Linked DNA regions of Homo sapiens. The protein of the gene in region 1 purifies or fractionates together with the protein of each later gene. This does not show direct contact. Each region holds a gene or a part of one and is shown in the gene's direction. Other genes may lie near its edges.

Region 1 (4,081 bases):
AAATGAGTAGACATTCGAGTTGCTGTACCTAACCAAAACACCAGACTTTATGGTAATTTTCAACAGAACATAGCGATTGATGATGTAGTCATTACTAGTTGCATTTTGGGGAGATTTTTAAAACTTTAATTTGGTATTTAGAAAAAAATGCAGTTTCAGCAATTTAGTTTTAAAAAAAGTTTGAATGTGCAGCTAACTCAGGCTTCATTCACCTTTCTCTTTATTTACTCAGAGTGGAAAAAGAAAGCCTGTCTTTTCAGAATCTGAACAATGTCTCATTTAGAATGATGAGTTCATCCAAGGAACAAAAATTGGCTTCTGTACCTTTAGAAAAAGGAACTGCTGTTAAATGTTGGGCTGTCATTTCAGTAGTTTGATGAATCCAGTTGTTTTAAGTGACCTCTACCGGTTCACTTACATGAATTCCAAAAACTTAATAGCAGATACACGCTGTGAATGATTTGCCCTTATTTCAGAACTTTGTTAAGATTGCGTTTTGGGGATGACTAGTATTAATTAACCAGTTTTTTTAAATCAGAAGTAAAGAGTAGAACTTGATACCAGTGTTGAAATTATTTGCAGGAAAATAAGACACAGGTATTTTGACCTGATATGAACTTAGTTATGAAGCAAATTTTTTTCCCCATATGATGCCATGAAAAGTTATAGTATTTAATTTATGATAATAATTTTAAGCTTTAGTATATCTGAGAACTACATGTGACTACTCCTTAAAAATCAATTTAAAATGTGATACAAGTGATTAGAAAATATTCCCTCCAGGTCTTTACTAGATAGTCATAAAAAGATTTGACTTATATATTACAAAGGAGAATTTTCATTTGTTCTTTGTGAATTTCTTCTCCTTTTCCTTTGAATCGTGAAGAAATGTTTGGAGACTCACAGGAAGAAAGTGGCAGTAGAGCTGCTTTACAACTGATACATTTTTTGAAGTAGAGATGGTTGTTTTACTGGCTTCTCATTTTTCACTGTCTCTCTCATTTTTTATTTAGAATTTTCTCCCAAACTGGTTGGCTTGACTGGCACGAGAGAAGAGGTCGATCAAGTGGCCAGAGCATACAGAGTGTATTACAGCCCTGGCCCCAAGGACGAAGATGAAGACTACATAGTGAGTAAATGTTCCAGTTTTAACCCATGGACCAGCTCCCAGATCCCAAATAGTCATAAGGCTTTCAATGACTGACTAGCTTCTGAGAAGAGAGAATACCTAAGATTATTGCAAAGTCCTTAGGAATTTTTTTTTTTTTTTTTTTGAGATGGAGTCTCATTCTGTCATCCAGGCTGGAGTGCAGTGGCACAATCTTCGCTCACTGCAACCTCCGCCTCCCAGATTCAAGCAATTCTCCTATGTCAGCCTCCCGAGTAGCTGGGATTACAGGTGCGCGCCACCACACCTGGCTACTTTTTTATATTTTTTGGTAGAGACGGGGTTTCACCACGTTGGCCAGGCTGGTCTCGAACTCCTGACCTTACCCGCCTCAGCCTCCCAAAGTACTGGGATTACAGACGTGAGCCACCGCATCCAGCCTCCTTAGGAATTTTGAATATTTGAAAGGATAATAGAAGCATGTTTTTTACTTTTTATTTATTTTCGAGACGGAGTCTCACTCCGTCAGCCAGGCTGGAGTGCAGTGGTGCGATCTTGGCTCACTTCGACCTCCGCCTCCCGGATTCAAGCAATTCTCCTCCCTCAGCCTCTCGCGTAGCTGGGATTACAGGCATGTGCTCCCACGCCTGGCTAGTTTTTGTATTTTTAGTAGAGAAGGAGTTTTGCCATGTTGGCCAGGCGAGGCCAGGGGGTCTCGAATTCCTGACCTCAGGTGGTCTGCCCTGCCCACCTCAGCCTCCCAAAGTGCTGGGATTACAGGCCTGAGCCACTGCGCCCAGCCAGAAGCAGTTTTTTAAAAGATGATTGTTTGATTTATATTCACTGTTCTCATAATTCAATTGCCTGTTTTTCTCTTATAGTGGCATATAGGATTTTAGGGCAGTTTAAAACCAGATACTTGGGTGCCATGTTGGAAATAAAGAGAAGCCATCATTTGGAACAACACTTATTTTAAAAAGATTGTGTTGGTTCTCACTGTGTCCCCAGTAGAGGTATCAGAAATTGCTCTTCTGGAGAACCAGTTTTAGGCCATGGAGAACTGCATTTTTAGGTTGAATGAGAATTCTGAAAAGCAAAAGATGAAAGGTTTATTTGCCCATTGACTATATGCCTTGGACAGTTAGGCGTTAAATATGTGCTTTTTAATGATAAGGAACAGAAATTCTGTTGTACTTGTGTAGCTCTTAAATTAACTATCTTCATATTCATCAGCACTGCCCCAGAAGCCTTAAGGTCATGCCCAAGTTACTGTGTTTCTTTTCTTGTCAGTGGTTTCACAGTGAAGCACCAAAAGGCATTAGCACCACCACTATCCACCAATTTTCCTCTCAATTTGGACATTTTTCTCCTATCATATGAAGAGTCGGCGTTGTATTTTAGCATTATTTCAGTATTTTTCTTAGTTGTCATACTCTGTTTTTTCTATAATATTGTTTGGGCAGAGTAATCCTAAGAGCCTTTCTAGCTGTGAAGCTGTCTTTGTAGAAAGAAAGATGGCCAAGACCCTGAGTCACTGATCCAGCAGCTCCCCATGGCCCATCCCAAGAGTTGAGATGCAGAGGGGATGGGATGTCTCACTGCAGTGCTTTGTCTCAACAGCCAACTATGATTTCTTTGTCCCTTTGAACCTGGAACGTGTGTGCCCCTGGAGCCTACAGCCTGAATTAAAAGCAAGGTTCTGGCCTGTTTGCCTTAATTAAGCCTACACAGTAATCCTGTCTTCCAGATGTGGTGCCTCGTAGAATTAGGGAAACTTGGATTCCTTGGAGTAAAAGATGAGAAAAATGAGCACTTTTCTTTAAGCCTTAATTGTAAGGAAAGTAGAGGGACCCTCCTCTGTTTTCCTCTTGCTGCTTCTCTAGCAGAATGAGAGAAGAGCAGAGAGCCACAGTGGCCAAAAGAGGAAACCATAGGAAAAGGACTTTCCGGACTTCTGTCTTTATAGAGAGTTGTATTAACTGGTTTTGAGTTTATCCGATGATGACAGCAGGAATAGATGAGCTCATCAGTCTGATTTCCAGCATTAAATGAGTTATATTAAATTGTTTAAATGTATACAGTCCTAAACTAGGTAACACTCCATAGTCTTGATGCTTAGAACTCATAACTCAGAGTCAGAAAGTCAAATCAGAAAGCAGTTGTACAAATAAACCCAAACAGCCTGCAAAACTTAAATTGAAAACATTCAGTTACATTGACAAGAGATTTTGCTGAAACCAAAGTGCTGCTCAGGGCAAGAAGGGAGGGGGTTTTGGTCAGACTGCTATCACATACCCAACTCTACTCAACTGCCCCTCTGCATTTTCTATTTAAAATACTTTGAAACCTTTAATCGTGTAGCCTGCCTTGCCTGGTTAGTGTTGATTTGGCAAGAATGTATCATATTCATGTCTGCCTGTAACAGCAGTGGGCAGCTAGGTGCCAGTGAGATCATGGAGCAAACACAAGCCTGGGCACTGAAATTTATACTCACAACACAGATAATCCAGAATATGGATATTAATGTTTTTAATTACAAATGAAAACAAAAATATGTAAGTCTTATGGAAACTTCTTGGACCTTGTAGAATGTATCTTTGGCCCCATTTTGAGAAATACTGGCCTACTGCCATAAGAATTTGACTTTTGATGAGATTCGATGAGGAATTCATGCTGTACATTTGCTAAATCATCCAATAGGGGGAGACATTCTTCAGCTTCTTAGGTTTTTCATTAGTATGACTTCAGTCCCTTGAGGTCACAGATTTTCATCCATAGGATGGTTTGGGAAACTTCTGTTATCATTTAAGGACCTGCAGGAAGTAAGGGGGTACCTTTAAGGTTAATGTTGAGATGTAATGGAATGAAGTTTTCTTAATCCCAAACGACAGCAACAACAGGCAAGCTTCTGGCTTTTGAGTGGACTCTTCAGAGTGATCGAACTGGGTATACCAAATATTTGGAATTCCATAG
Region 2 (3,790 bases), on another chromosome or scaffold:
GATTGCACTATTGCACTCCAGCCCAGGCGACAGAGCGAGACTCCGTCTCAAAAAAACAAAGAGCAGGGACTTCTCCCAGTTCTGCGGGCTGGGATGGGAAGTCCGAGGTCAAGGGGCCTGCATCTGGCTGGGGCTTTTTGCTGTGTCATCCCATGGTGGAAGGCAGAGGGCAAGAGAGCACGGGCAGGGGAGACAGACAGACACAGACAGAGATGAGAGACAGAGACACACAGACCAAGATGAGAGACAAAGATGAGAGACACAGAGACAGAGATGAGACACAGAGAGATGAGAGACAGGTAAGAGAGACAGAGACAGGAGAGACATGGAGACAGACAGATGAGAGACACAGGACAGAGACAGATGAGAGACAGAGCTAGAGATGAGACACAGACAGACGGAGACAGAGAAGGGGCCACACTTACCCTTTTATCAGGAGCCACTCCTGTGCTAACAGCGAGAACGCTTTGGTGAGGACGGAGCCCTCACGACCTCAGCAGTGTTGCGTTGGGGATCAGGTTTCCGATGGTGAACTTGGGGACACGTCCACACCACAGCACGTGCCTATTGTGTTTCTCGGTGGCTGGTGTGTTTGAGGATGGCGCGTGCATGCGTTTTCCAGCTTTCTTTGTGGAGGAAGTTACCTGTGGGTATTAACCTGTCCCCAGCCATCCTCTCACTGAGCTTGGGTTGCCTGGGCCTGGGTTTCCTGTTGTTGCTGGAACGAATGACCACAGACAGTGGCATTAGACAGCGCAGGCAGACATGACCTCCTGGGCTTCTGCGGGTGCCAACACTGCCGCTCCTTCTGGAGGCTCAGGGAGGCTCTTGAGGGCATTGGGACATCGTGCTGCCGGCCGCCGGGCAGAGCCGGTTTGTTTATTTTTTGAGACTTCCGGGAACATAGTTATAAATAACTTTAATTTGCCTTGGCCTGCCCACTGCAGTACAGTCACGTGTCACATAACATTCTGTCTACCGTGGACCACATATACGACCACGCGGTCACATAAGCTGACAATACTGTATTTTTACTCCACTTTCTCTATTTAGATACACAGTTGCCATTGTGTCCCAGCAGCCTTCAGTACTCAGTACAGCCATGTGCTGTGCAGGTGTCTAGCTCAGGGGCATGAGGCCATGGCCCAGCCCAGTGTGCAGTGGGTGGCACCTTCTGGATTTGTGTCAGTCACTGTGGAGTTCGCACAATGACAGACTCACCTGGGAGGCCTTCCGTGCGCTTCTGTTTCTTTCTCTCATTTGATTGTGGCTAGAAACAGGCTGGGAACCAGGAGTGCAGCTTCTCGGAGTACGTGGCTGCCCCACGGGGTGGGATGTGCATTTTCAGTCACATTTGGGGAGAGCACGCGTGTTCTTAAGTTTTTAGCGGGTTCTAGTAAGAATGGATGTTGATTTTTAGAATTCTCTCCTGTTTATTTTTTAACATTTTGTGGTGGGAATTTGTGAAAGAATACGAAGTCAAGAGCATGGTACGGTGAGGACCCAGCACCATCTCCAACCTCCCCGGGGTCCACGTGGGGTCTGCGTGTGGCCGCCTGTCCCTCAGCACGATGTCTGGGTGTAAATCTGAGACATCACAGCATGCAGGCTGCAGACGTAGGCATCTCTACAAAAGAAGGATGCGTTTACAGGAGAATCGCTTGAACCTGGGAGGCAGAGGTTGCAGTGAATCGAGATCACGGCACTGCCCTCCAGCCTGGGCGACAAAGCCAGACTCCGTCTCAAAAAAAAAAAAAAAAAAAAGGGCGGGGAGCCGGGCTTGGTGGCTCATGCCTGTAATCCTAGCACTTTGGGAGGCCAAGGCGGGTGGATCACCTGAGGTCAGGAGTTCCAGACCAGCCTGGCCAACATGGTGGAATCCCATCTCTATTAAAAATACAGAAATTAGCCGCGTGTGTGACGCATGCCTGTAGTCCCAGCTACTCGGGAGGGTGAGGCAGGAGAATCGCTTGAACCCAGGAGGCAGAGGTTGCAGTGAGCCGAGATTGCACCACTGCACTCCAGCCTGGGTGACAGAGCGAGACTCCGTCTCAAAAAAAACAAATAAAAAATAAGACTGTCTTTAAATGCCTTTAAAAAACTGGCCAGGCATGGTGGCTCACCTTGTAATCCCAGCGCTTTGGGAGGCCGAGGCGGGCGGATCACCTGAGGTCAGGAGTTCCAGACCAGCCTGGCCAATGTGGCGAAACCCCATCTCTACTAAAAATAGAAAAATTAGCCCGGCGCGGTGGCGCACGCGTGTAATCCCAGCTGAGGGAGGCTGAGGCAGAAGGATCGCTTGAACCCGGGAGGTGGAGGTTGCAGTGAGCTGAGATTGCACCGCTGCACTCCAGCCTGGCTAACAGAGTGAGACTCTTCTCAAAAAAAATAAAAACCAGTGACCACGGACCACGGGCCACTGTCACATCTGAGCCAGGTTCACTGCCGCTCCTCTGCCGACTGACTGCCTGACAGTGGCTGCGCTTCTCCAGGTGTCTCCTGCCTGCTGTGTGGACGGTCCCGTCAGGGTTGGGATGCGCCTGCTGTCCCCTCTCCTGTCTCGCAGTCTTGGGTTCCCCGGAGTTGCAGGAATCAGGGCATTTGCCCAGTGGGGCCTTGCTGCTGGATCCCCTGGTCGGGACTGTGTGCCTGCCACGTGTCCCGTGGCCACCTGGCCATGTGGCCGGCCAAGGCCCTGTGAGATGTGGCAGGCAGGCACCTCGGGGGCCTGGGTCTCCTGGAAATGTTTCTGTCACTCTGGGCGCAGGTGGCGCCAGCTGGGTTGTCCTCATAAAGGCCCCATCCGGGATACTAGGAAGGCCATCCTCAACCTGTCCGCACACGTCACCTCCATGTGGCCTGGCCACAGCTCCTTCAGGCATCAGTCTGCAGGCGGCCGCCCTCCCTCCCTGCAGGGGCCCCGTTTGGGGCGTTGTGCTGGCTCTTGGCAAATGTCTGCCAACACCGTGGCTTCTGTGCTGTGGTCGCACGTGAGGCGTCTGTGGGCACGAATGCTGTCTTTGTTGTGTTTTGGTGTCTGGCTTCAGAAAAGAATGTGGAAGAGTTTCGTTCTCTTTCCTGTGGTTCAGTGTAGCTGGCAGTCAGGGAGAACTCTCTGCAGCTGGCGCCGGCCCTGTATTTGTTAGGCTTGTTTCTCCTGGGCTCGGCTGCTGGGCAAGGCCTTTTGGGACTGGAGGAGCACCTCGTTTTTCTGTCTCCTTCTTCCTCCACCCTCCTCCTGTCCCCGGGCTGTCTCCCCCTCCCTCCACCCTCCTCCTGTCCCTGGGCTGTCTCCCCCTCCCTCCACCCTCCTGTCCCTGGGCTGCAGCTCTGCTTCCCTGCCACAGGTCCCACCCCCTGCCTGCCTCTGTCCACTTCCCACCCCCCTCTTCACCTGCTGAGACCCTGTGCTTCTCATCTCAGAACAACTGAGAACTCTCATGTGAGCACCCCCAGAAGTAGGTTCTGAGGTCTTTGAGGACAAGGGTGCCCTCTGGGGTGGGCAGGGTGAGTGGCACTGGGCTGATGCCTGCTGTGTCTGCAGTGGAGACCTTTGGCGACTTGGCCTTTGGCGACATCTTCCTCCACCTGCTCACGGGCAACCTTGCGCTGCTGGCCGACGAATTTGCCCTTGAGGACTTCTGCAGCAGCCTCTTCGATGGCTTCTTCCTCACCGCCTCTCCAAGGTAGGCCTGCTGGGTACCATCCGGCCCGCTCTGTCCTCTCAGCTCTTGTCCGTAGCAGCCTGAGAGGTGGCTGCTGTCCCCAGCCTGGGGCGGAGGGTCCGCAG

Evidence for each region.
Region 2: the proteins of SCO1 (region 1) and NELFB fractionate together in Homo sapiens (co-fractionation; one large-scale study listed by BioGRID). This does not show direct contact.

Annotation. Positions count from the first base shown.
Region 1 is NC_000017.11:10,683,775-10,687,855, reverse strand, and holds part of SCO1 (protein SCO1 homolog, mitochondrial), read left to right. Parts: intron 1-1,013; coding exon 1,014-1,129; intron 1,130-4,081. UniProt on the Homo sapiens protein: Copper metallochaperone essential for the maturation of cytochrome c oxidase subunit II (MT-CO2/COX2). Not required for the synthesis of MT-CO2/COX2 but plays a crucial role in stabilizing MT-CO2/COX2 during its subsequent maturation.
Region 2 is NC_000009.12:137,268,537-137,272,326, forward strand, and holds part of NELFB (negative elongation factor B), read left to right. Parts: intron 1-3,544; coding exon 3,545-3,686; intron 3,687-3,790. UniProt on the Homo sapiens protein: Essential component of the NELF complex, a complex that negatively regulates the elongation of transcription by RNA polymerase II.